3 separate regions of the Homo sapiens genome follow, and all the other regions are linked to region 3. Evidence: fine-mapped expression QTL. A gene starts in region 3. Each other region holds a variant in brackets. All regions are shown on one strand. Distances are between the middles of the regions.

Region 1 (8,000 bases), 56 kb before region 3:
GAGGTGAAAGATATCTACAAGAAGAAGTACAAAACACTGCTGAAAGAAATCAGAGATAGCACAAATAAATAGAAAATTATTCCATGCTCATGGATTGGAAGAATCAATACAGTTTGAATGACTATACTGTTTAAATCAATTTATAGATTCAACACCATCCTTATTAAAATAAAAGCGTCATTTTTCACAGAATTAGAAAAATCTATTCTAAAACTCAGTTGGAACCATAAAAGAGCCTGAATAGCCAAAGCAATTGTAAACAAAAAGAACAAAGCTAGAGGCATCGCGTTGCCCAACTTCTAACTATACTATAAGGCTACAGTAATCAAAATGGCATGGTACTGGTACAAAAACAGACACATAGACCAGTGGAACAGAACAGAGAACTCAGAAACAAACCTGCTCACTTACAACCATCTGATCTTCAACAAAATCAACAAAAATAAGCAATGGGAAATGGACTGTCTATTCAATAAATGATGCTGGAATAACTGGCTAGACATACGAAGAAAAACGAAACTGGACCCATACTTCTCATCCTATACAAAAATTAACTCAAGATGGATTAAAGATTTAAATGTAAGACCTAAAACTATAAAAATCCTAGAATAAACCTAGGAAATACCCTTCCTGACATAGGCTTTGGCAAAGAATTTATGGCTAAGTCTCCAAAAGCAATTGCAACTCAAACAAAAACTGACAAGTGGGACCCAGTTAAACTAAATAGCTTCTGTACAACAAAAGAAATTACCAAAAGAGTAAACAGACAGCCTTCAGAATGGGAGAAAATTTTTGCAAACTGTGCATATAACGAAGGTCTGATATCCAGAATCTACAAGGAACTTAAACAAATCAACAAGCAAAAAACAAAATCCAATTAAAAAATGGGCAAAGGACATGAACAGACACTTCTCAAAAGAAGACATACAAGTGGTCAACAAACATGAAAAAAATGCCCAACATTACTAATCATCAGATAAATGCAAATCAGAATCACAGTGAGATACCATCTCACACTACTCAGAGTGGCTATTATTAAAAAGTCAAGAAAATAACAGATGCTGGTGAGGTTGTGGAGGAAAAGGAATGCTCATACACTGTTGGTGGGAGGGTAAAATTAGTTCAACCATTGTGGAAGACAGTGTGGCAATTCCTCAAAGACTTAAAGACAGAAATGCCATTCTACCCAGCAATCCCACTACCTTTAGGTATATACCCAAAGGAAAATAACTTGTTCTATCAAAAAGATACACGCACTCATATGTTCCTTATAGTGCTATTCACAAAAGCAAAGACACGGAACCAATCTAGTTGCCCATCAACAGTGAATTGGATAAAGAAAATGTGGCACACATATACACCATGAAATACTATGCAGCCATAAAAAGAATGAAATCACACCCTTCGCAGCAACATGGATGGAGCGGAGGCCATTATCCTAAGCAACTTAATGCAAGAACAGAAAACCAAATACTGCATGTTCTTACTTACAAGTGGAAGCTAAACATCGAATACACATAAATGTGAAGATGAGAACAAGAGACACTGGGGACCACTAGATGGGGCAGGGGGAGAGGGTGGCATGGGCTGAAGAACCATCTGTTGGGTACTATGCTTACTGCCTGGGTGATGGGATTTTTGGGACACCAAGCCTCAGCATCACACAATTTACCCATGTAACAAACCTGCAAATGCACCCTTTAATCTATAATAAAAGTTGAAAAAAGAAAATGATGATAATAAACCTTAGCATTAAAAAATAGTTCATTTGTAACATAAAAATTAAGTAAATTCTTATTTGTTCTTACTTCTTTTCCCACTGTGTTTTTCCAAAGTAGAATTGTTTTCAACATCCATGGTATCTAGAAAGTGACAGGTAGTGGTCAGAGAACTGTAATTTATAAGTAAAATTTATAAATCTTATGACAATTCACACTGCATGGAAGGCTTGCGTTTATAACAATATTCTGAGTATAATTTATCTGTCTTCCTTCCAAAGGAAACAGACACTGAATTGATGTCTAAGGTCTTCGTCTAGTTCTCTGAGACTTTGAAACAGCTCTTCATTACTTTTATGCACCAATTTCCTCATTTATGAAACAGGGACAGCAACGGTTATCCTGTTCAGCTTTAAAATTTTTATGAATATTAAATATCTTACTTGCAAGAGTTAATAGGAAATCACTATATAAATCAATAACAGTCCAGAGGATATCTTTCAAAACAATGTATTTTTAGCATAAGAGTAGGTATCTGATTTTTCTTTCCTGACAGGTAGCAGGACTATTTGTCTTTTTAGGCCTTTCCAAAGTTGTGACAAAATGACACTATTACCTGTGAGTGGAAGAACATGTTTTCTTTTTTTTTTTTTCAAGAACAAGGATGGAACTCGCTTTATAAATTCAACACTTTACTATTGATATGCTAATATAGTGAGATACTACTATGTTTACCAGTGTATTTTTTTACCACCTAACCAAGAGAGCCCATTCTGTTAAATATGGCTTTATAATGATCTCTTGCCTCCCTGCAGTTCCCAAAAGGGTCGGGTTAAGCAAATGTAGAGAACAGGATTCTGGCGGCACCAAACCTGTTCTTTGTCACAGTCTGCTCACAGTCAAGTGCAGCAGGAAACCGGGACTATGATTTCAGACTTTTGAAATTCTGAAGCTTGGGGCCTGTGGGCCCACTTCCTGTTGGTGATCCAGAGGCTGTTTCATGCTTTGCTTCAACTCTGATCACTTCCCACATCCCTACCCAGTGTCTGTGATATCCACTGAGCCACTTCCATCCCAAGACCCTAGGGTAGCCTTACCCATCATGTCAGATGCTTGACTACTTTCAGTCCTTGCTTCTTGGCTTCTTGGCACACCTTTTGGAAAACACATGACACAGGAGCACTTCTTATTTTCAGGTTCTTGTGGCTGTGATCCTAAATTGTGATTTGTAAACATTTTTATTTGTGCCCACTCCCCTTCAAAGATTCTCCTTCCCCCCAACATTAGTGACTGCCCACTCCCCACAGCTAAATTAAGGGATGGGCTCTACATCTGAAATCTCTTTTTCTTTTGTGGTTCCTCACTGTATTTTTCCCTTCTGTTCATAAATAACCCTGAGAATTTCATCTTGAAATAAAGGGTCAATTAATAGTTTGTTTCAGTGATGAAGAACACTGGAGGAGCAAAGGCTGGTTTTAGGGAAAAAGATGATGTGCTCAGTTTTGGAGGTGTTAAGTTTGAAGGTCTTGAGTAACATCCAAGTGGTGAAGTCTAAGGCCTTCAGAATCTCCAACAGGAGCCTTCTGACACTTGGATGAATGAGTTTAGAAGACAGGGCTGGCTGGAGATACACATGTAGGAATCATGAGGTTGTGGGTGGTGACTGAAATCACAGGAGTGGATGAAATGCCTGGGTGAGGCCTTTTTTAATCTGGGTGAGTCAGAGGGGCCAGGGGACACCTTATTCTGAAAACTTACTGCTATTGTGAATCATGCCTTGTGCTAAAGTTGCTTTTATCTCATGGTCATTTCAGATCCTACAATTTCTCCATCATTCTCTTCTCTCCCATTTACACTTCCCCCTTCTTGCCTCCATTTTTCTCTCATCTTTTAATTCTTTCTCTACATACTTCTTGTTGTACCTAATTTTTTACACCACTCATCACCCTTTGAATGTATCTCATTCCACCTGTTTTTCTGTTTATATCTTTAGATCTAGTTTTATTATTGAGGTGAACTTCTTTCTACTATCACTTCCTCCTTCTATTCTCTCTTCTAGCTTGTTTCTCTGAATCTTGTCTTGACTTTTTTTTTTTTTTTTTTTTTTTTT[G/TTTG]AGACGGAGTCTTGCTCGATCGCCCAGGCTGGAGTGCAGTGGTGCGATCTTGGTTCACTGCAAGACCTGCCTCCAAGGTTCACGCCATTCTCCTGCCTCAGCCTCCTGAGTAGCTGGAGCTACAGCTGCCTGCCACCATGCCTGGCTAATTTTTTTTGTTTTTAGTAGAGATGGGGTTTCACCGTTTTAGCCAGGATGGTCTTGATCTCCTGACCTCGTGATCCGCCCACCTCGGCCTCCCAAAGTGCTGGGATTACAGGCATGAGTCACTGCGCCTGGCCCTTATCTTGATCTTGACTCTTTTTGCAATTTCAATCTTTGTCTTTATCCACATTTTCTTCATCTATATTCATCTTTATCTCACAGGTTATTACTTTCATCACCAAATGCCTGCTGTTAGGACACTGACCACATAGCCATCTCTATTACCTTTGTCTGTTCTTTATGAGCTTTCTACCTTGCAAGGCTGTCAATCAATCAGCAACTTTATTTTCACGTTTCTGGTACAATTTCTGAGAAGTGTGTTGAAAATTATCCCTCCCTCCCCCACAAAATTCCCCTACCTGGAATATTTGAATTCCTTGTCCACTTAGAAAAACTTGAAGCTGACTCTTATATCTTTTCATTTGGTGACTCTAGCCTACCTTTCTCCATTCTTTCTCCTTACTTTATCCACTCAGTGTCTCCTCCCTCCATTCAGGAGCCCAGCTCTTCTTTTTCTTTTCGCTCCCTCAAACCTGTCGCAAGCAGCCCGAGTCTGTGCACAAGTCTTTGTGTGTGTGGTGTGTATGTGTGTGTGCATATGTTTTGGGGGAGAGGTAAGGAAAAGAAAAAAGAACTTTTCCTCCATGCAAGTAGGAAAAAAAAGATAATTAATAATGAACTGAACATCATAATCGGCTTCTCCATCACAAGCTAATGGGCTGCATCTCTTCTGACTCTCTTTGTGTATTCATTGGAGGAGCTCTAAATTCACAGGACAATGAAGACAAACAAGGAAATAATAGACTATAGACAGTGACGAGGAAACCAGGGAACCTGTCTCAATGTGGTCATGCTGAACTATTTTCAGAGCTTAAACGGACTGACAAAAAAATACACCTATATCAATGAGTACACCTCATAGCCCTACTCTATCTGGCCACACTTCGTTCTCCTTCTCACTTCTCATTTTTCTGCCCATTGCCCTGCTGCTATACATTTTTGTCTCTGTCTCTTTGATTCGGTGAGCTCATCTCCCTTTGATTTATCTTGTCTCCTGTGTTGCTTTTTCTGTTTCCATCAATGATGTTCTGTTCTCCTTTATTTCTATGTTTATCTATTTTGCTTCTGTCTTTCTAGGTATTTTGTATATTATATAGCTGGTTCCATTCCTATTATCTCTGTCTGTTTGCGATTTTTATTTTTCCCTCCCCCTAAAGATTATATGTATTAACCAATATACATATATACACACACATATGTGTGTGTTTATGTATGTATACATGTTATATGTAACAAATATATGCATGTGTACACACACACACACACACAGTGGTTGTTAAATAAGCTTTCTTGCATCAGGCACTGGTATAGTCTCCTGTGAATATTCTGAGTTCCTTGCGCATCTTCTTTGGACTTTGACTTAAATGACACAGCTCTTATCCTCCTGTCTGTTACATACAACAGTCACCCACCGTGAGACACCTGGGTTGCTAGTTTCTATTGTTTCTTTAGTTTTTTGGCCCTAATACTTCTGTACATCTATTTCCTCACCCCAAAATGGGTATAGTTAGCCTGCCTATGTCTTAAAAATTTTGTGATGACAAAATAAGATATTATTTGCCAAAAGACATTGAAATAACACAATATAATCCAATTACATGATGAAGGACATCTACCAAAAACTATACTAACGTTTGAGAGTGTTTGATCTGAAGTTTTTATTTCTGTCTATAATTACATAGTAGGAACAGTTGTCTTTTGAGGCTTTACAATTACAAATGACAATGATGTCAACCCATTTATCACTATAAAAATCTAAGATCTTAGTGTTAATAGGAATGAGAGCAGGTTTAAAAAAAAGAATACCACAAATTTGCTATTTATTTCTTCTACAACAACAAAATATAATTACATACATTTAGTCAGTGAAACTCTTTCTGTTAAACATGAGTTTATCATAATTTCCTGCCTCTTTCCATTTTCTAAAATGCAAAAAGGAGTTCCCAGATGAACTGGATACAAGGTAGTGAAGGTGCTCAGAATAAAAAGCGTCTGGAAACAGCAGCTTTTAATTCACATTCCTGACATTCTGCAGGCCAAGTCTTGGCATCCTAATCTTCTTTACCTGACCCTCTTCTTAGGGATGAGCTGCAGGTTTCCTGAAGCTCTTCTCCATTACTCAGGTCTGAAAAGTCACTACTGCTGAAACCTGCAGAAAAAAATAAAATTCCTTAACAGTCTTAGTCTGAGTCTTAGGAATCAGCAGGGAATTCTTTAAAAGCAAAACTGAACAAGAGAAGCTTGTGGAGGAGGGGGAGAAATAGTCCCACCACTAGGCCACCCTTTGGCTTTGATCATCTGACCTGTTGGTCAAGATTGCTCCAGGAGCCCTCTCTGAGGCTGGGGCTGGGGATGACATTGTTTCTTCTTCTTTTTTTTTTTTAACTTTGGGAAAAATATGTATTTATTATAAATCATCCATTTCATTGGGTGGTTTCAAATTAAGAAAGCAATATATGCTTGTCATAAGAAGACCAATGAATGCAAATGTATATAACCCCAAAGCTCTCTTTTCCTACCCTATTCTGTCTCTGGTCTCCCAGCTAGTGAAGTCAACAGATCAGTGTGGATCCTTCCATCGTTTTCTCCTATCTCATTCATGCATAATCAAATAAAAGGAACATACATAATGTTCAATCTTTTCTGAATACAATCCTAGGACAACGTTGTTTCTTACGCTTCTTAGGCTTTCATTATTAGTTTGCACATACTTCTGCTTCCATCTCAGTTTCTTATCCAAGGGAACCATGGAAGCAACATCTTAAAGATGTCAGAGCCCCCATCAGCTGGGCCCTGAATGACTGTGTGGGCACCCCCTCTACTCAGGAACTACTTTATCCTATTTATGTGAGTGAAAAATAAACTTATGTTGCACTTGTGCCTTTGAACATTTTGAGGCTTATGTTTTATACCAGCCCAACTCATCTAATTGAAAATGTAAAATGCAAATCATCTAAAATCCCAACAAATTAATTTTTTATTTTAAAGGATATAACATAAAAAGTGAATGTAGCTTTTGCAGCAAATAAAGACATTTGTTACATCAAGAGTTTTTAATTGCTCTTACGTCTCTTCCTGCTGGGTATTCTCCAAGTAGATGTACTTCTAGAAGTCATAGGAGCTAGAAAGTAAAGGAAAACCAAATCAATAATATCTAACTAAAAGATCTATAAATCTTATGACTGCTTACACTGTTGACAGAATTTGGACTATAAATATTCTATGAGGATCATTTCTGTCTCTTCCCATCTAAGGGAAAGAGATTACTATCAAATGGAGCACAGACCCACAATCCTTTAGCCCTAATTGCAAAATCAATGACTTTTTTTTTTTTTTTTTTTTTTTTGAGACAGGGTCTCACTCTGTCAGCCAAGCTGGAGGGCAGTGGTGCAATCTTGGCTCACTGCAGTCTTGACCTTCCAGGCTCAAATGATCCTTCCACCTCAGCCTCCCACATCACTGGGACTACAGGCATGCACCACCACCATGCCCAGCTAATTTTTTGCATTTTTTGGTAGAAATGGGGTTTTGCCATGTTGCCTAGGCTGGTCTTGAACTCCTGGGCTCAAAAGATCCACCTGCCTCAGCCCCTCAGCCTCCCAAAGTGTTGGGATTATAGGCGTGAGCCACCACACCTGGCCTCAAAGATATTTTAATAACCAGTATTGTTTTCATAGGTTTGCAGCTAACTAATTTGGCAGTGAATCTGGACTTGAGTTGCCATGAGTCCGTGTAAAATCTTATCATATTTGGTGTGAATATTTATATAATTTGCTGTATAAACATTAGTATATTTGAGAATGGGATTCTTCCCTGGATCCTACTAGGGTATTTTGTTGTATATAGAATATAAACCACATTGTCTTTCTAAAATAATAAAACATTTTTTGAACTTTGAAGTACATCTG
Region 2 (8,000 bases), 41 kb before region 3:
CGCCTGTAGTCCCAGCTACTCGGGAGGCTGAGGCAGGAGAATGGCGTGAACCCGGGAAGCGGAGCTTGCAGTGAGCCGAGATTGCGCCACTGCAGTCCGCAGTCCGGCCTGGGCGACAGAGCGAGACTCCGTCTCAAAAAAAAAAAAAAAAAAAAAAAAAAAAAAAAAAAAAAAAAAGAAACAGATTACCAATACCCCAGACACCTCCTGGTGACACTTCCCATTAACTGTTTCCACTAACTTGCTCAAAGACAACTACCATTGAGGTTTCCAACACTAAGGTTAATTTTGCTTGTTGTGTAATTTATAAAAATGGAATAATCTCTTTTCTCTCCACTCTTTCTTTCTCCCTTTACCTCTCTCTCAATATATATAGATCTCCCAAAAGAAGCCAAATCCCCCAAAATTGTATGGATATTTTACTCAACATGCTTGTGAAAGTCATCTGTATTCGTTTTGTATAATTATTTTCACTACTAGATAGTATTCCATTATAGAAATAAGCCATGAATTATTTATTCATTTGTACAATTTCAAGCATTTGGCTTCTATGAATAATGCTGCCTTGAGCATTCTTTTCTATGTGTTTTGGTGACATAACACACATTTCTGTTGGTTTCTGCTGAGGAATATAATTGTTGGGTTATAGGGTATGTATATTTTCACCTTTGGAAGATTACCCCAAACTGTTTTCCCAAAAGCATATATAAAGGCAGAGATGAAAGAAAGAGAGCTTGGCAAATTCCAGTAAGTAAAGGAAGCTTAGTGTGGTGGGAATGTGGCATGAAAGGGCGAGAGGTGGGTGACGGGGAACGCGCAGGTGCGTGGTAGACATCCTTCAATTCACCACTCCAAGCAGTGTTGATCTACTGCTAAGGGCCACACGAAGGCACTGGGTTTCAAACAGGAAAGTCATATCAACTGGTTTCTATTTTGGAAAAGTCCATTCAACTGAAGTGCAGACTTGAGAGGAGCAAGACTGGGGGCCAGACAGGAGACTGTTCCTCTAATTTTAGTGAGAGTGACAGGGGTCTAGATTAGGGTGTTCGTGCTGGGGATGAAGAGAAATGGACAAGTTAGAGATATTTTAAAGTTGGGATTGACACAAGTGGCAAATGAAATGATGATTGTTTTAAGCCACTAAGTTTCAGGATAGTTTGTTACATGACACAGCAATAGATGACAGATGCAGCTTCCAAAGAGAGATGTTCTTCAGGTCTTTAAATAAAGGTCTTCAGGCAATTGGGGAAGGGAGTCAACAGGACAGGTCTGAGCTGGAGATGTATGTTTAGAAATCAACAGATCTTAGATGGTGATTGAGCCATGGAGAGGAAGTGATGCCTGAGGAGAGGCTTATTGTAATCTGGGGGTGGAGGTGGAGTCACAGGGGCCATTTTGATAAGAGGGCAGCTGATCTTTCTCCATAGTAATAGGACACCCTGTGCCTCCTTTCTAGCTCTTATCTCCTCAGATCAGAGAATGTCTTGATTTGTCTTCTCTCTTCCCTTCTTTGCATGATCCACTCTCTACCAATTTTTCATTCATTGTCCTTTAACTCATTTTCTGCATACTTCTCTTTGTGCCTCCCTCCATTTTTCCTATTTCTTGGTATTTATTTCCCTCTATGTTTTTTCTATTCATAGTCTTTTTATCTACACTTTTTAAAAATTATTGTCTCTTAGAGACAGAACCAGGGTGAGGTGAAGGTGGTGCTATGGGGTGCCTTGAAATTTAAGGAAGCTCAGTCTCACATGCCAAGTGAGGTCTCCTTACATGCTGTGCCCTGGGGGCCTCCCTGCCTCACCTCGTGCCAGGCCTGTTGTCCCATATGTAATGTTGCATCTCTGTTACATTTCCTACCTGCTTTGAGTCGGCCCTTATTTCTTAATTATTAACGTTACCTCTGCAAGCTTCTTCTATGTCACTTTTTTTTCAAAAATACTTTCGCATCTGATGTGTGAGTGCTATATCACTTTTTGTCTTTCTATATCTTCCTCATCTCAAACATTCCCATCATTACGAAAGGTCTCTTCCAGTGCCATTGTCTACCACACCAGAGGCCCTCCACTTGCCATTCCTTCCTGAAGGTCTTTCACCTGGGCTTCCTTCCTTTGCAAATCTGACAAGCAGCATCATGCATAATTTCTACGTTTTCATGATAACTTCTGAAAAGTAACTTGCAACATATTTCTATTCAACAACTCCACAACATGACAATGTATGGATACCATGTCACTTTATCTAAAATCTGTCTCACTCATACACAGTTGACCCTTCAACAACAGGGGCTTGAACTACATGAGTCCACTTGTATGCAGATTTTCTTCCACCTCTGCCACCCCTCAGACAGCAAGGCCAACCCCTCCTCTCCTTCCTCCTTCTCAAACTACTCAATGATGAGGATGAAGGTCTTTATGATTACCTATTGCCACTTAATGAATAGTAAATATATTTTCTCTTCCTTATGATTGTATTAATAACATTTTCCTTTGGAGATCTTACTTCATTGTGAGAATACAGCACATAATACGTATGGAAAATATGTGTTATCATCTGTTTATGTTATCAGTAAGGCTTCTGGTCAACAGCAGTTGTTAAGTTTTGGGGAATGTAAAAGTTATGTGCAAATGTTTGACTGCATGGGGCATTGGTACCCCTAACCTCCCACAGTGTCCAGGGGTCAACTGTGTTTTGTTATTTAATATTCCCTAGTTGACCTCTTTTGTATTCTTTCTTCTTGCATTCTCTAACCAGGGACAGTCCCTCTGTTAAAAAGACTCACTCTCTTTTTCCCTTCCATCTCATACCTGTTAAAAGCAGCCAGAGGCTGTGAACAAAGTCTGTGTGTCTTGGATGAGTGTAGGCAGTTAGTATGAGAAAACAAAGGGAAGTTTTGCCCTTATAGAAAAATAAAGATATAATTAGAAAATTGGGGAGAAGTAGAGCAAGATGGGAGAATAGGACTCTCCAGCCCTCCATCCCCTGCAGAAACACTGATGTGAACAACGACCTATGCATGAAAATACCTTTGCAAGAGCTGAGGAAACCAGATGAAAGATCACAGCACCTGAGTGAAACACAGAAATAAGAAAGAGCACATTGAAAAGGGCAGGAAGAAAAGTTTCACTGTGTCATCTTCCCCAACTCCAGGAAGCACAGCATTGAGCAAGATACA[A/G]TATGCTTGGGGAAAGGAGAAGGAAGTGAGCACCAGACTTTGCCTTACACCCAAACCACAGAACCGACTTCAGTAAAACCCAGCTCCCAAAGCCCCAGACTCTAGCCAGTACCCATGGTCTGAACCTCCAAGCTCACTCTGACCCCAACCTAAATCCTGCAGCCCCAGGACTCAGGCCAGCCCTGCGAACTCAGTCTTCAGCCTCCTACAGCACTATTTCAGCCTCAGTGAACCCATGATCCAGACCAGACCGAGTGCCAAACTGGACCAAGTGGCACTGGGCTTGAGGCCCATCCTAGCAGCAAGCTGGCTTCAATAGCACTGGGCTTCATGCCTACTGAAGTGCCTGAAGAAGCCTGCATCAGTGGTGTAGAGCCCTGCAGATTCTGGCTCAAGGTTTCCCCCAGCACAGACCTGCCCACTGGTTGTCCTAGGCACCAGACTAGCCTGCTTGAGGACTCTAGCAGCAAGCCTGCCCTTGTACCATGCCAGATGGCCATCTTAGAATCTTTAAATAGGGTGAAAGGCTTTCCCAGACAAAGTCAGCCTGCAAAGACTAGAATAGTTTCTACTTTCTCAAATGTACAGACATAAATGTAAGGCAACAAGAAACATAAAAACCAAAGAGACACAACATGACCAAAAGAACACAATAATCTCCCCATAGCAGACCCCAAAGTAATGGAGATAACAAACTGCCTTATGCAGAATTCAAAATAATTGTTTTAAGGAATCTCAGCAAACCTTAAGAAAATATAGGAAACAATTCACTAAAATTAGGGAGACAATAAATGACCAAAATGAGAAAGTTTAACAGAGATATTGAAATTATTTAAAAAATCAAACAAATTCTGGAGCTGAAAAATACAATGAATGAAATTTAAAAAGGCATCAGAGAGCATCAACAGCAGAATTGATCATGCAGAAGAAAGAATATGAACTCAAAGACAGGTTATTTGAAATACAATCAGAGAAGAAAAAGAAAAGAGAATGAAAAGTCATGAAGAAAGCTTACAGGATTTATGAAACACACCAAAAGAGCAAATATTTGAATCACAGGAATTCATAAAAGGGAAGAGAAAGACAAAAGTAGAAAGTTAATTTAAAGAGATAATAGTATAAAGCTTTGCCAATCTGGTGAAAGACATAAATTTCCAGGTACAAGAAGGTCAATGGTCTCCAATCAGATTCAGTGCAAACACGACTACACCAAAACATACTATAATCAAGCTGTCAAGATTCAAGGACAAAGAGAGAATCCTGAAAGCAACAAAAGAAAAGAAGCAACTAACATATGAGGGAGTTTTAATAAGGACAACAGTGGACTTTTTAGCACAAACCTTACAGATAAGGAGAGAATGAGATGAAACATTCAAAGTGCCAAAGGAAGAAAAAGAAACCTGACAACCAAGAATACTTTTCTTGGCAAAGCTGTCTTTCAGAAATAAAGGAGAGATAAAGACCGTCCCGGGAAAACAAAAGATGAATACATTCATTACCACCAGACCTGTCTTACAAGAAATGCTCAAGCTGAAAGAAGTAAATGCTAACTAATAATATAAAAATATAAGAAAGTATAAAACTAACTGGTAAAGTAAATATATAGTCAAAAAATAGTAGCTACAATAATTTTTTAGAGTATACACTATATAAAACTTGTAAACTCTGACATCAAACATTTTAAATGAGGGAGCAAAGTAAAAGTGCAGTTTTTGTAGGCAATCAAAATTAAGTTGTTATCAGCTTAAAATAGCCTGTTATAAGATGTTTTGTGTAAACTTCATGTTAACCACAAAGCAAAAACTTACAGTGATTACACAAAAGATAAAGAGGAATCAAAGTGTATCACTAGAGAAAATCACCTAATCACAAAGGAAGACAGTAAGAGAGAAAGAAAGGAATAAAGAATCTACAGACAACCAGAAAACAATAAACAAAATGGTTTTAGAAAGTACTTACCTATCAGTAATTATATTAAGTGTAAATAAATTAAATTCTCCAATCAAAAGACATAGAGTGGCTGAATGAATTTAAAAATCATGAACCAAGTATATGTGGCTTGCAAGACACTCACTTCACTTTTAAGGAAACACATAGACTGAAAGTGAAAAGATAGAAAAAGATATTTCATGCAAATGGAAATGAAAGAAAGAAAGCACAGGTGTACTTACGTCAGATGAGATACAGTTTGAATCAAATAATATAAAACAAGGCAAAAAAGGTCATGATAAAACCAGGCATGGTGGCTTACATCTGTAATCCCAACACTTTGGGAGGCTGAGGTGAAAGTATTGCTTGAGCCCAGAAGTTTGAGACCTGCCTGGGCAACATAAGGCAATCCTGTCTCTATAAATAACTAAAAAAAATTAGTCAGATGTGATGGTACATGCCTGTCATCTCAGCTACTTGGGGGGATTGCCTGAGCCCAGGAGGTTGAGGCTGCAGCGAGCCATGATTGCACTAGTGCACTCCAGTCTGGGTGACAGAGCAAGACCCTGTCTCCAAAACAAAAACTAAAACAAAAAACAAAAGAAACAAAAAGAAAGAAAGAAAATAAGAAGGTCATTATGTAATGATGAAGGAGTCAACTTATCAAGATGATATAACAATTGTAAACATATGCACCCAATATTTGAGCAACTAAATATATAAAACAAATATTAATAGATCTGAAGGAAAGAGAGACTAATACAATAATACTAGGGGACTTCAACACCCTACCTTCAGCAGTGGACAGATTGTCCAGGGAGAAAATCAATAAGAACACATCAAACTTAAACTATACTTTAGACCAAGAGGACCTAAAAGGCATATATAGAATATTTTATCTACAAGCAGAAAAGTACCATTCTTCTCAATTGTACATGAGACATTCTACAGGATACATCATATGTTAGGCTACAAAACAAGTTTTAACAAAGTAAAGAAGGCTGAAGTTATATCAGATATACTTTCTGACCACAATGATATGAAATTAGAAATCAATAACGAGGAATTTTGAAAAATTTGCAAATACATGGAAATTAAGTACACTCCCAAATAACCAATGGGTCAATGAAGAAATTAAAGGGAAAAAATTTTTTAAATCTTGAGACAAATGAAGATAGAAATGTAACATATCAAAACTTATGGGATATAGCAAAAGCAGTTACAAGAGGGGAAGTTTATAGCAATAAACACAAGAATACATAAAGAAAGAAGAAAGATCTCAAACAACCTAATGTTACACCTCAAGAAACCAGACAAAGAAGAAAAACTAAGGCAAAAATTAGCAGAAAGAAGGAAACAATAAATATCAGATCAGAAATAAATGAGTTCAAAACTAGAAAAAAATGAGATCAACAAAACAAAGCACTGGCTTTTTGAAAAAATAAACAAAATTGAGAAAGCTTTAGCTAGACTAAGAAAAAAGAGAAAACACTCAAATGAATAAAATCAGAAATGAAAGAGGAGACACTACCTTTCTCATACCACATATATACAAAGAATCATAAGACACTGCTATAAACAATTTAATGCCAACAAATTGGATAACCTAGAAGAAATGGATAAATTCCTAAACACACACAGCCTACCAAGACTGAATAACAAAGAAACAGGAAAATCTGAACAGACCAATAATGAGTAAGATTTAATCCATAATAAAATACCACCCACCAAACAAAAGTTCAGGACCAGATGGTTTCACTGTTGAATTCTACCAAATATTTAAGGAACAAATAGCAATCTTTTTCAAACTCTTCTTAAAAATTGAATAAGAGGGACTACTTCCAAACTCATTTTATGAAGCCAGCATTACCCTGATACCAAAGCTAGACATGAACACTACAAGAAAAGAAAATTATAGGCCACTATCCTTGATAAACGTATATGAAAAATCCTCAATAAAATACTATCAAATTCAGTAGCACATTAAACACCATGATCAAATAAGATTTATCACTGGGATGCAAGAATGGTTTAACATATACATATCTAAAGGGTCATACACCACATTAATAGAATGAAGGACAAAAACCATATGATCATCTCAATAGATGTAGGAAAAGCATTTGACAAAATTCAACATTTTTTCATGATAAAAACTCTCAGCAAAATAGATATAGAAGAAATGTATCTCAGGACAATAGTGGCCATACATGACAAGCCCACAGCTAGTACCATACTTAATGACAAAAAACTGAAAGATTTCCCTCTAAGGTTAGAAACAAGAGTAGGATGCTGATATGGTCTTGCTGTGTCCCCACCCAAACTCATCTTGAATTGTAGTTCCCATAACCCCCACATGTCATGGGAAGGACTTAGTGGGAGGTAATTGAGTCATGGGGGCAGTTACCTCAATGCTGTTCTCACAACAGTGAGTGAGTTCTCACAAGATCTGATGGTTTTATAAGGAACTTGTCCCCCCTTTGCACTGTACTTCTCCTTGCTGCTGCCATGTAAAGAAGGACGTGTTTGCTTCCCCTTTTCTGCCATGATCGTAAGTTTCCTGAGGCCTCTCCAGCCATGCTGAACTCTTGAGTCAATTAAACCCCTTTCCTTTATAAATTATCCAGTCTTTTATTAGCAGTGTGAGGATGGACCAATACAGATTGCCCATTCTCACTTCTATTCAACATGTTACTGCAAGTCCTAGCCAGAACAATTAGGCAGGCAAAAGAAATAAAAGGCATTCAAATTGGAAAGGAAGAAGTTTTAAATTGTCCTTATTTGCAGATGACCTGATCTTATATATACAAAATCCCGAAGACTCCACCAAAAAAAAAAAAAAAAAAACTGCTAGAACTAATAAACAAATTCAGTAAAGTGGCAGGATACAAACGCA
Region 3 (10,659 bases):
AATCCAAGCAAATATATAAGAGGGCAATAGTTATTTGTGGGGTCGGCGGGGAGGGGCGGGAGGATGTTGCACAGGAAAGGAAATGTAATCATAATATAGTAGATGACTTGGTTATGAACAACATGTAAATAGTCATCATAATGGTAACACTGATTACTGATGAACCTCCAACTGTGATGTATTATGAGAATGGACAGGGAATGAAAAGGAGTGTTATGGAAAAAGTCTTCATCTTCTGTCCTATTATGTGAACAGATTAATGTCTGAAACTTGAAAAATTACAAAGAGCTGTATCAGCACATCATTTCAAAATACAGAAGTAAATACAAAAGTAAGAGCCAAAAAGTTAATCCATTAGGGAAACTGGACATGGGCTGGGAAGATGGCAGAAAGTACTACTTGTGTTTTTAAAGGTCTTATTGACTGATACTTTAAGCTATATATATATATATGTTTTACTTTGGTGAAATTAATAACCGAATTAATAAAATGTTTCAATATAATTTACTGTGGATAAATCAGATTAAAAGAGAAAAATGATACAATTCTCAAAGATTCTTTAGTAGGCATTTTGATAAATATCCTATACACAGGCCTGATTAAAATAAATAACTTTTAGTAAACCAGAGCCAGCAGGAAATGTCCTTAACTTGAAAAAAGGTGTCTATAAGAAAGCCTCAATTTAAACATTATAAGTATTCCCCTTGAAATCAGGAATAAAACTAAAATGTTCATTTTTACTGTTACTATTCAGTATTACACTGGCAGTCCTGGCTAATGCGCTAAGGCAAAAGAGAAAGAAAAAAGAAAGAAAAAGAAAAGTATACAGGTATAAATTCTGAAAAAGAGGAGACAAAGCTGCTACTATCTTTGAAGATGTAATTATTTCTCCAGAAAAACACAAGACAATATTAAGAGGGAGAAGACCACTTAGTAAGACTCCTATGCACAAGATCAGCTAACTAAAATGAATAGATTTCCCTTATGCCAGCAAGAAATAACTAGAAAATGTAAAAGGAAAATGAATTCCTGTTTACAAATACAATTTTAAAATGCCTAGAACTAAAGCGACCCAACAAGGTCCCAAGTTCAAACAATCATGAATAAATGGAGAGATTTACTATGTTTCTCACTGGGGCCATTCAGGATTTTTTTAAAACATAAATTCTTCCTAAATTTATCTGTTCATTTAGTGTCTCTCAATTCAATCCCAGTAAGGTAGGTTACAGAACACTACCTATAAAATCATAGTAACTAAAACATTTCAGTATTGAAACAAGAATGAAAATAGAACCATGGATCAGATCATGGGTCACCAACGCAAATTCATATGTAAAATTTAGCACACTAGTTCCCTTCTATCCACAGGGGATGCTTCCAAGAACCCCAGTGGATGCTTGAAACCGCAGATAGTACCAAACTCTGCATATACTATGTTTTCCCCAATCTGTACATAAATTAGGCACAATAAAAGATGAATAACAATATCTAATAATAAAGTAGATCAACTATAACAATGTAGTGTAATAAAAATTATGTAAATGTGGTCTCTTTTTGTCTCTCAAAACATCATACTGTAGATATTAACAACCTCAGCATATTATTTTTTTCTTTCAGGAAATTTCACATTTTCACCTAAAGGAAGCCCTTGACGGCTTCTCTTTGGCATATCTGAATTGCCAGCATCAACCTTCTTGTGCTTTGGGGCCATTATTGACTAAAATAAGGGTTCCTTGAACACAAGCTCTGTTATACCAGGACAGTCGATCTGATCACCAGGACAGCTACTCAGCGACTCATGGGCTGGTAGTGTCTACACTGTGGATACCCTGGATAAAGGGATGGTTCACATCCTGGGCAGGATGGAGAGGGACAGCATGAGATTTCATCACACTCCTCAGAACGCCAAGTATCTTAAAACTCATGAATTGTTTTCTGGAATTTTGCATTTAATGTTTTTGGACCAAGTTTTACTGCAAGTAACTGAAATCTCAGAAAGTAAAACTGTTGATAAGGGAGGACTACTTTAGTTAATAATGGCATAAAAATATCAAATATCTATGAAGGAATCTAGCAGAAGGGCAAAACCTTCAGAGAGAAAAATACAAATTTTAATAGGAGACATTTTTAAAGTAATAATATACATAAACCATATTCATGAGATGGAAGTCTCGTGAATGTAAAGATGTCCATTCTCTTCAAATTGATTTATAGATCCAGTGCAGTTCCACACAAAATCTCGAGATTTTGACAGGCAAATTTGGGAGTCTAAGACATTCTGGAGGAAGAGGAAGAGATTTGCTCCCTCAGATGTCAAGAGTTCCTGGGAAGCTGCCATCACTATGGCAGCGTGGTACTGGCATAAGGAGGGGCTGTCACCGGCCAAGGGGAGAGAAGAGAGAACACAGAAGCACACCCTGCCTCTATACTCCCAAAAAGGGTAGCACTGCGAATCAGCAGGGAAAAGGATAATTTAATCAATCAACGGTGAACTCAGAAAAATTGATAAGAATCAAAACAAAGACTTCAAACTGTAGCTCAGACAAAAAACAATTTGATCTCAGATAAAACAGGGAATGTTAAAAAAAAAAAGAAAAAAAGTTCATCCAGATTATGACTAAGCAAACGGGAAGTTTGGGGTGACCTGCCCTGGCCAAGCCTGGCTAGAGGAGCTGTAAAGCCACCACAGGCACGTGGAACACAAGATCAGACAGAATCAGTCTGGAAAAATAACTAAGAGACAACAAGGAGAATATCCCAAAGTTCTTAACAGCACAGGCAAACCTAAATAAAGCAAGACTGTGAAGACTGAATGACAAGAGGTTATGGAGCTTGCAGGCGTACAGAAACCAATTAAGATCCCTCCTCAAAAATAAACACTATCAATTTTTAAAAAATTAGAAATGACAAGAAACAAGAAACCTACTAGAAGGTAAATAATTGTCATGGAGGAAAAGTTTGAGACAACTATTATGAACACAAAGTGAAAGACTGAAAAGATGAAAACGGGGCAAATAAAAGCTGTGAAGGCTAAAGTGGCTCCAATGTAAGAATATTTTTGTTTAAAAATTTAAAAAATTTTCAGAGATATTAGAGGAGGAACTCTTCCTGGAATAGCGGTAGCAGCGAATCTGCCACCTTAACACAGAAATAATTGTAAAAACTAAGAGTGCTCACAGAGGGTGTCAGCATCACCTCGTTTATAACAAGGGTGCATCTATCTTAAAAAAATCTGTATCACAAGAGGCCTATATGTTAAGTTTTAAGCTTTAATAAGATAAAAGTCACCATAGACAAAGGTAATGGACAAGAAAAGTATATTTATACTTACAGAATATTTAGTGAATTCTCCCATATCACGAAAAAAAGGACAAACACCTCAACGGAATCATATTGGCAAAAAACAAACAAGCAATTTATAGAAGAGGGAATTTAAATGGCCAAGAAACATGAAAAGCTGATCAATTTTCCCATCGTAAGGAAAATACAAATTAAAACAAGACATAACTCTTCATTCATCACCTTTGCAAATCGTGGCTGTGTGCAGGAAGATGGTTCATCTCATTTGCTACTGGTGAAATACATTCATTCAGCCTCCTAGAAAGACAATTTGGCAGGACCAAGTAAATAACTGGACCCTTTGCCTCAATAATTACATTTTTAAGGTTTAGAGACAAGATAAATATTTGTTTAGATGTAAAAACCCAAAAAGAAATATATAATCATTGTTATGATAGCTTATTGGTAAATGTGAACAATTTAAAAACAATCTAAATGTCCTTCAATTGGAGAATAAATAATTATCATATATCAATTCTATGGAATAGCATGTATAAAAAGAATGAGGCAGATCTATATGTATTAAGGTTAAAAGATCTCTAAGTTTTCCACTATTAAAATAAGTAAAAATGCAAAATGCAGACTAGCACATGTAATATAATTTATTATAAATCAAGAACATAAATTACGTATTTACAAAAAATGCATTAGATATATAAATGCATAGAAAAATATAAGAAAAGCTGTGCCCAAGACTCTTCACAGGACTGGGAAGAGAAGCTACAAGAATGGCTGAGTGGCAAAGATGACTTTTTCCTTAATATACTTCTCCACTGTTTTAAATTTTATGAACAATAATGTACAGTGTATTTCTTTTGTATTAAAAAATTTAAAAGATTAAGTAATGTTATTTCTCAACTCACTACTAGAGAAAAGTTAGGATTTCCTTCTCTTTTCTGGTCAGAGGTATCCCCCATCTTGGGACAGGAAATTGAGGTAAAAATGAAAATATTTAGCCGTTTGTCACCCTGGGCCTTTTTCTTCCCTTTCCTTCTTTTGATCAAGGTTGATGGAATAAGAACTCAGACCCTGAGCCAGTCATGGGAACAGCCGGCAGAGGCCCCTTGCCAGGACAGGTGAGACCACAGCGTCTGATGTTTAAAAGTAAGCCAGGTGTTTACCCTGGAGTGTTTATTTTCTAAAGCACCTTTTTTGACATGACATATTTGAAGGTAGAGGAAGGCTGAGGGGTGAAAGGGTTCACAGATCATGAGGAAATAGTTAATCCCAGCCACCAACAACTGCTATGTTTAGAGTGTCCCGGTCAGCTGAGCAGTAAATCCAAAACAAGAAAGTCACGTGTGTTATGGCAAGTTGAACTCACACCAACAGCTGTCCTGCTCCTGTTTAAAAAATCTGATTTCCTCATTACTTGTCTTTCATTTCATTATATAACATCGCATACCTATGTTCTTGCAAAGAAGGATTAAAGTGAAGCCTTAGGCACAAACTGAACTAAAGGCATGAAAGCTGCAATATAGCCAGAGATAAAGGTTAAAGGAAGGGAGATAAAGACTCACCTGGTGCTCAGGTCGCCGCCCCCACCTGCCATCTTCCCACCCTAGGCCCTGCGTGGGCCTCAGAGCCTGGCCTCTGAGCCCCTCAGTCGGCCCAGCCTGCGTGCAGTGTGGCTGCCCAGGCCCCAAGCAGGAAGTCGGCCGACAGACTGACTCAGAAAGGGCTCCGCCCAAATGGGGAAAAGAGAAGTGAAAGTATTTAACCTCCTTCTGGGCTACGGACACTGTGTTTCTCCTCCTTTTTCACTCCAAGGGATTCTCAGCTTTTCTGAAATGTGGCAGAGGGTTGGAGGAGAGGCCTGACAAGCAGCAAGACCTGCAGGACCAGGGAAGGAGGGCCCAGGGGACGAGCAGGGCCAGCTCCCGGGTGTCCACTTGTTTGTGCAATACACAGCCAAAAAAAATGTCCTTGAAACAAAATTGTCCTTAGCTGCTCTGCCCTCTAAGAGGGGGCATAGTTTACATGGGAGTTGGGGGGGAAACTCCATGTTTGCCCCTTCCCCTTGCTGACATGGCTTGGGGTGGGAGTTGGAGGGTTGGAGGGAAAGCCAGAAACCTCAAATCTTCTCTCAGGCCCATGGGAGAGCATGGACTGGACTAAGGTAGGTCCTGACATTGGGACCCAGGGCTGGAGAGAACCAAAATGCTCAGCATTATAACCTGGGGAGAGTGTGCTTAGCCTTCCTGGAAATCAGCCAGAAGTAAGAGAGAACTCTCCACACCCCTGGGACCAGAGGCTGGAGCCAGCATGGTAAGAAAGGCAAACATTTTAAGGGGCAAGGGTTTAAGGAATCTTGACTATGGGGCCGCCTTGGAACAGCCAGGGGTGAAGAGACACCTAAGCTTCGGAGAAGTCACTGGAATCTTGAGAGAACAAAAGCTTCTCATTGGAGGAGGATGGAGGTTGGAACCCAGATGATCTAGACATGGAAGGGCAGGGTGGCTCCCGCGGGAGGTTCTATCTCTGCCCAGATTTTCCATTTAGATTCTGATTCATCATTCCTCAGAGAACAAGAAGCGACCGAGAAGACTCGCTTTACATCAGTATAAAGTCATAGGTAAAGAAACAGAAGCAAAGGGCGCATGAGAATGGGGCCACAGGACACAACCAGGGACCAGAACTCCAGGCCGGACCATGGGGCAGAGACAGGGAGGCAGCTGGGAGCCTGGGGGCGCTGGAATCCAGGGCCCAAGGTGAGCAGAGGGTGGAAGCTGGTGAGGATTCAGGGGCCAGAGGGGATGGCACTTCAGAACGGTGTTTTCCAAATGGCATTCTACTGAATCCAACTTCTTCCAGCTGTGAATAAGGATGCTTGTCCAGGTACATTTGAAAATGTGGGGGAAGGGGCTTTCTACCCTCACTCTACTTCTGCTCTTCTTTTCCCCATGAGTGAATGACCAGGCACCAGGACATTGGTGAGGACAGCTTTGCCGGTGGGCGAAGGTCACTGTTTCTATCAGGCACTGCACACCTGTAGGTCTCTCTCTCTTTCTCTCACCTGTAGGTCTCTCTCTCTTTCTCTCATTCTTCCTACCCCCCATGACTCCCCGACTTTATGGGGCTGAAGGGCTGGTAAGCTGAGCCTCTTTTGGGCACAGCTGTCCTTTGATCCCAGTCTCCATGAGGCACATTGGTCCCAAGAAGTCCTGGCATGGACCACACAGTATGCTTTGGTGTGGTTCACGTTCTCCCCTCTCGCTGCCTCTGGGCAGCAGGCAGGCTCAGGCCATTGAGTGGCACTGACATAAACGTGCCAGCTTTTCCCTGGATGTGCTTAGGGGCTACTAAGAGCAGCACCTGGAATTCCAGACCAATGAGCCACAGGCTGGCAGGGAATTCCTTACGGGTTGAACTTCACGGGCAGACATGCCCATGCTGGGGCACCTCCTGGCAGCAGGGAAGGAGATGTTCTCATCAGATGAGGTTGGAGACAGATGAGCATGCACCATGCTCCGCTGGTATATGGAGAATCTGTAGGCCTCTGTGAAGAAAGCAAAGTTTCTCTGATCCAGAAAACAATGTCAGACACACTGGGGTTGGGAAAGGGACGGGACCACATTAAGAAGACATGTGAGCTAAAAATCCTGCTGGACTGTTTAGAAGGAAATAATGGAACTCCTGGGGCATTTTCCATGGCTGCAAGGAGCACAGGCAATAGGGAATATTTCTGTTGTCAAGAAGTAGTTCCAGTTACTGGAGCCTGGAAAACTCAAAAGCAGGGGAGGCAGTGATTGAGGAAGGACCACAGGCAGGGCACCCAGCCAGATGATGGGCCTCTTACATTTCACCAAGAGCAGCTTCAGTTCAGACTTCAGTGGTGTGGGTGAGGCAGGAGAATAGGGTCTGGAGGCAGGGAACCTAAGGCCATTTCATGCTAACTTCCTAGAACTAAATTGAAAGGAAAACCCTAACTTTCCATGCCTAAGTAACAAAAGGTCCAGAGGCTACTCCCTTTGCAAACCCCCACCTTTTCTGTGGGGCAATGGGAAATGGAAAGTACCTGTGTATAGTTGTTTTTTGCATAGGAGTGTAACTTTGTAACTTTACTTCAGCCTCTGATGGGTTGCTGTCTGCAACCAATCAGACTGATTGCAGGCCAAGTCTTCCTTTGCATAGAAGTACAACTTTGTAATTTCACTTTAGCCTCTGATTGGTTGCTTTCTGCAACCAATGAGATGTTTGCACAGGAGTGTGACCTTTGTAACTTCACTTCAGCCTCTGGTTGGTTGCTTTCCTCAACCAATCAGACTGATTGCAGGCCGCCACTTCATTTACATGAGGTGAGCACCAAGTGGTCAATGGGAAACCTCCAGGGGGTATTTGGACCAGAGAAGATTCTGTATGCGGGACCGTTGAATACTGCTTGGGCCTGCTCCCACACTGTGGAGTGTACTTCTATTTTCAATAAATCCCTGCTTTCGTTCTTTTGTTGCTTCATTCTTTTCTTGCTTTGCTGTGCGCTTTGTCCAATTCTTTGTTCAAAACGCCAAGAACCTGGACAACTTGCAGTCAAGACCCTCTACTGGTAACATGGTGGGGGGTGATTCTTCAACCTGGGACCCCCATGTGAGAACCAGAGGTCTGTACCTGAGATGAGGTCATTGGCATCATGGACCAGAGAGTTTCAGGGCAGGAGGCAGCTACAGGAACAGTGCCACTGGGGCATGAGAATAGAGAACCTGGCCACCCTCCAAGGGACGTAGAAGTGACGAGTGAAGGGCAGGCGCCTGGGATCTTTAGTGGGAGCACCCAGTCCTGCCGAACTGTCTCCTTCTAGGAGGTGGAACATCAATCAGTCAAGGCCCGGTCCCTTCCGGTCCCCGCCCATCTTCTAGGGGACGCTTCTCTGACTGGGAGTGGGAGTGAGCCTGCTCTTTGCTGGGTGTCCCTGGAGTCATCCTGCCTGCAGAGACCAAGACTCTGTTGGCTCCTCCAAGCTCAAGTGCACAAGGACAGGGGCCTGCATAGCGTGGGGGAGAGTTGGAACAGCCTGAGGCCATGCGGATAAGCCCAATTCTGGAGTTCAGTGTTAGGGGTCCCTTTACTGCCACATATCTAAGCCACATCCCCAATCCAGCTTTTATCCGGAATAAAGCTGGTATTTTGATCGCCGTCTGTCTCTCCATTTTGCCTATATTTCAAAGGGTTCAAGCACATGGGTATACATCTCTCTTCTGAGGTTCTTTTCTATCTGTGCCGCAGATGGGTAGAGGCTGGGGTCATAGCTCCTTGCAATTGCATGATTGTGATGCAATTATCCCCCGGGCTCAGCGGGCATTTGGTAGCAATATTTCAGCTTTTAGGAAGTTGGGTGAGACCAGGCTGGTCTGATCCTCCCTGGCCCACTCACCAGGGTCCCCTGCTCAGCAGAGCCTCAGTGACTGGCCTAAAGAGGCTATGGGTGAAGGATTGTAGGGAGTCAGAAAGACAAGGGGAGCATTGGACAACACAGGAAGTCCCTCTGGCCACCTTCTGAAGGTGGGGACCATTCATGAGAAATCCGGAGGACGCCCTCAGTCCTTGTGCAGCACCAGGAAGAAACCGACTGGCCCAGGGCCACCCCTGAGTCCGCATCATCACGCAGGGTCCTTCAGCTGAGCCCCTGTTGTATCCGCAGATGAACATCCGCAGATCCCTGTCCCCTGGTAACTGACGGACAGCACAGGGTCCTGGTGGCCCATGGACGCCACCTCATGCCTCCTTTCCGAGGCCACCTAGCCGGCGAGGCCCGCCACGGACACACCGTGAGCACGCGCAACGAGCAGGGGTCGGTGATCGCCATCCCCCGTGTCCGCCTCCCGCGTTCCCGTTCCCGCGGCCGCCCCGCGCTCCTCCGGGCTCCGCCCCCGCCCGGCCGGCGCCCAGTCTCCCGGCAGCGCGTAGCGCTGCAGCCTCTTCAGGGCTGGGCAGAAACAGAAACCGAAAATCCTCCTCTTATCGGGATTCTAGCTCACCAAACACTTCGAATTGTGTGGTAGAAGAGCCGTAGTTCCTTCTAAATAAAGTCGAACCCATGTAAGGTCTGGGTTCTGAGATCATTTTGCCCTCTGGCAGCTCACGAGCACCACCGGGTCGCCGCCTGCCCTCTGTTCAGCCCGTGAGGGGCGGGGGACTCTGCCCTTCGCTCCTCCTGGTCTCTGTCCTCTTCCCTAAGAGTTTCATTCCGTCCGGAGCCACAAGCCGCCCTGCCTTCTGCACCTCCCCGGAGGCTGAAGCCCTTAAGCCTGCCCCGCACCCTAAGGCCCTGCAGGACACTCCTGCTGTCCTTGCGGGGCACACTGATATGACTCGATGCTGAGCAGTTGAAAGGATTAAAAAATAGTGGGCAAACGGCAAAAACGGGTGGCATGGAGTGAATTAGAAGACACGAGACTTCAGAGAAGTGCGTTTCATGCACAGAAGTTTGTCAATGCCCCCCACCCCGAAACCCAGTCTCCCTGAGTGAGGGAGAGGGGGCTTCACCTTCCCTTTCGTTTCACTTTGAGCCCCAACTGCTGGACTGCAACAGAACGACCCTACAGGCTCACTATGTTTCACATTCTGGGGATTCCTGGTGGCACCTTCCTGTGTTCACCAGTGGGTCCCCGTTAGACTTGGGGCTGTCACCTGACATATGGAACCAGGCAGCTCCATGTTGGATGCCTCCACAAGCATGGAACTAAGGCTGCGGGGTCAGACCTACCCTCAGAAAGGAGGAGGAATGTCTTTCGAGCTGTGGTCGGCCTGGGGTCTCCTTGTGAGCCTCAGGGTGCCAAGGAGGCAGGGCTGAACACCACCAGGAGCGGAGGGAGCCTGGTGGCTGGGGCTGGAGCCAGGAAAGGCTTGAATGAACAATGCAGCCTTTTACCAAGTCTGCACTCCTAATGTTTCTGCAAACCTCCATATGTCTATTACTTTTACCATGGTGAGCTGGAATGGCCCGCAGACTGTCCTAGATCTTAGGACTGCCAGGTGATGCATGTGTGGCGAGGGAAGGAGATACCTGGTGGCCCCTCCAGATGGTCTCCACCAGCACCTGCTGGGCAGCAGCTTCTGCTTCTTTGGGCTTGCAAGTGGGTGCTTCTATGAAGAGGAGGGTCCCTGGCAGGTTCCTCAGTATTGCTGAACAGAATAAAGGAAGCGCAGGGTTGGAAAGTGTAGCTTCATGAAGATTTAGTGGTTACGAGACAGGTTATGAGACAGGAGGTACAGTTCCAGCAAAGGCCAATGCCCATCTGCCAACCATTGTCTGGCGGAGATGTGCAGGGAAGGGGTGGAGTCTGCCTTTCCACAGGTGCTCCTCCTGGAAATGTGGGTGGGAGA

Alleles and levels. Alleles are on the strand shown, and positions count from the first base shown. SD is a standard deviation of normalised expression in the study named. Not every link is listed here.
For the expression in monocytes after LPS of the gene that starts at base 4,987 in region 3, allele G in region 1 goes with a higher level than allele TTTG (large effect, 1.0 SD a copy in Fairfax 2014).

What was found.
Region 1: its variant is fine-mapped to the expression of SP100 in monocytes after LPS (Fairfax 2014, PIP 0.95).
Region 2: its variant is fine-mapped to the expression of SP100 in whole blood (TOPMed, PIP above 0.99).

Annotation. Positions count from the first base shown.
Region 1 is chr2:230,468,256-230,476,255 of GRCh38, reverse strand. It overlaps SP100 (SP100 nuclear antigen), which reads right to left. Exons shown (of 29, transcript NM_001080391.2): 14 at 7,160-7,213; 15 at 6,158-6,241; 16 at 2,816-2,932; 17 at 1,809-1,862. All of the region lies in intron 3 of LOC101928816 (a long non-coding RNA gene), which reads left to right. Among named protein-coding and RNA genes, the nearest start is that of SP100, 56 kb to the right of the region's middle. The variant G/TTTG (reference allele first, on the strand shown) is at 3,829.
Region 2 is chr2:230,452,770-230,460,769 of GRCh38, reverse strand. All of the region lies in intron 8 of SP100 (SP100 nuclear antigen), which reads right to left. The region is part of intron 3 of LOC101928816 (a long non-coding RNA gene); the gene reads left to right. Among named protein-coding and RNA genes, the nearest start is that of SP100, 41 kb to the right of the region's middle. The variant A/G (reference allele first, on the strand shown) is at 3,176.
Region 3 is chr2:230,410,529-230,421,187 of GRCh38, reverse strand. It overlaps SP100 (SP100 nuclear antigen), which reads right to left and starts at 4,987. Exons shown (of 29, transcript NM_001080391.2): 1 at 4,860-4,987; 2 at 3,523-3,597. The coding sequence starts at 4,891. RefSeq lists enhancers at 4,821-5,340, 8,633-8,682, 9,343-9,432 and a silencer at 8,983-9,252.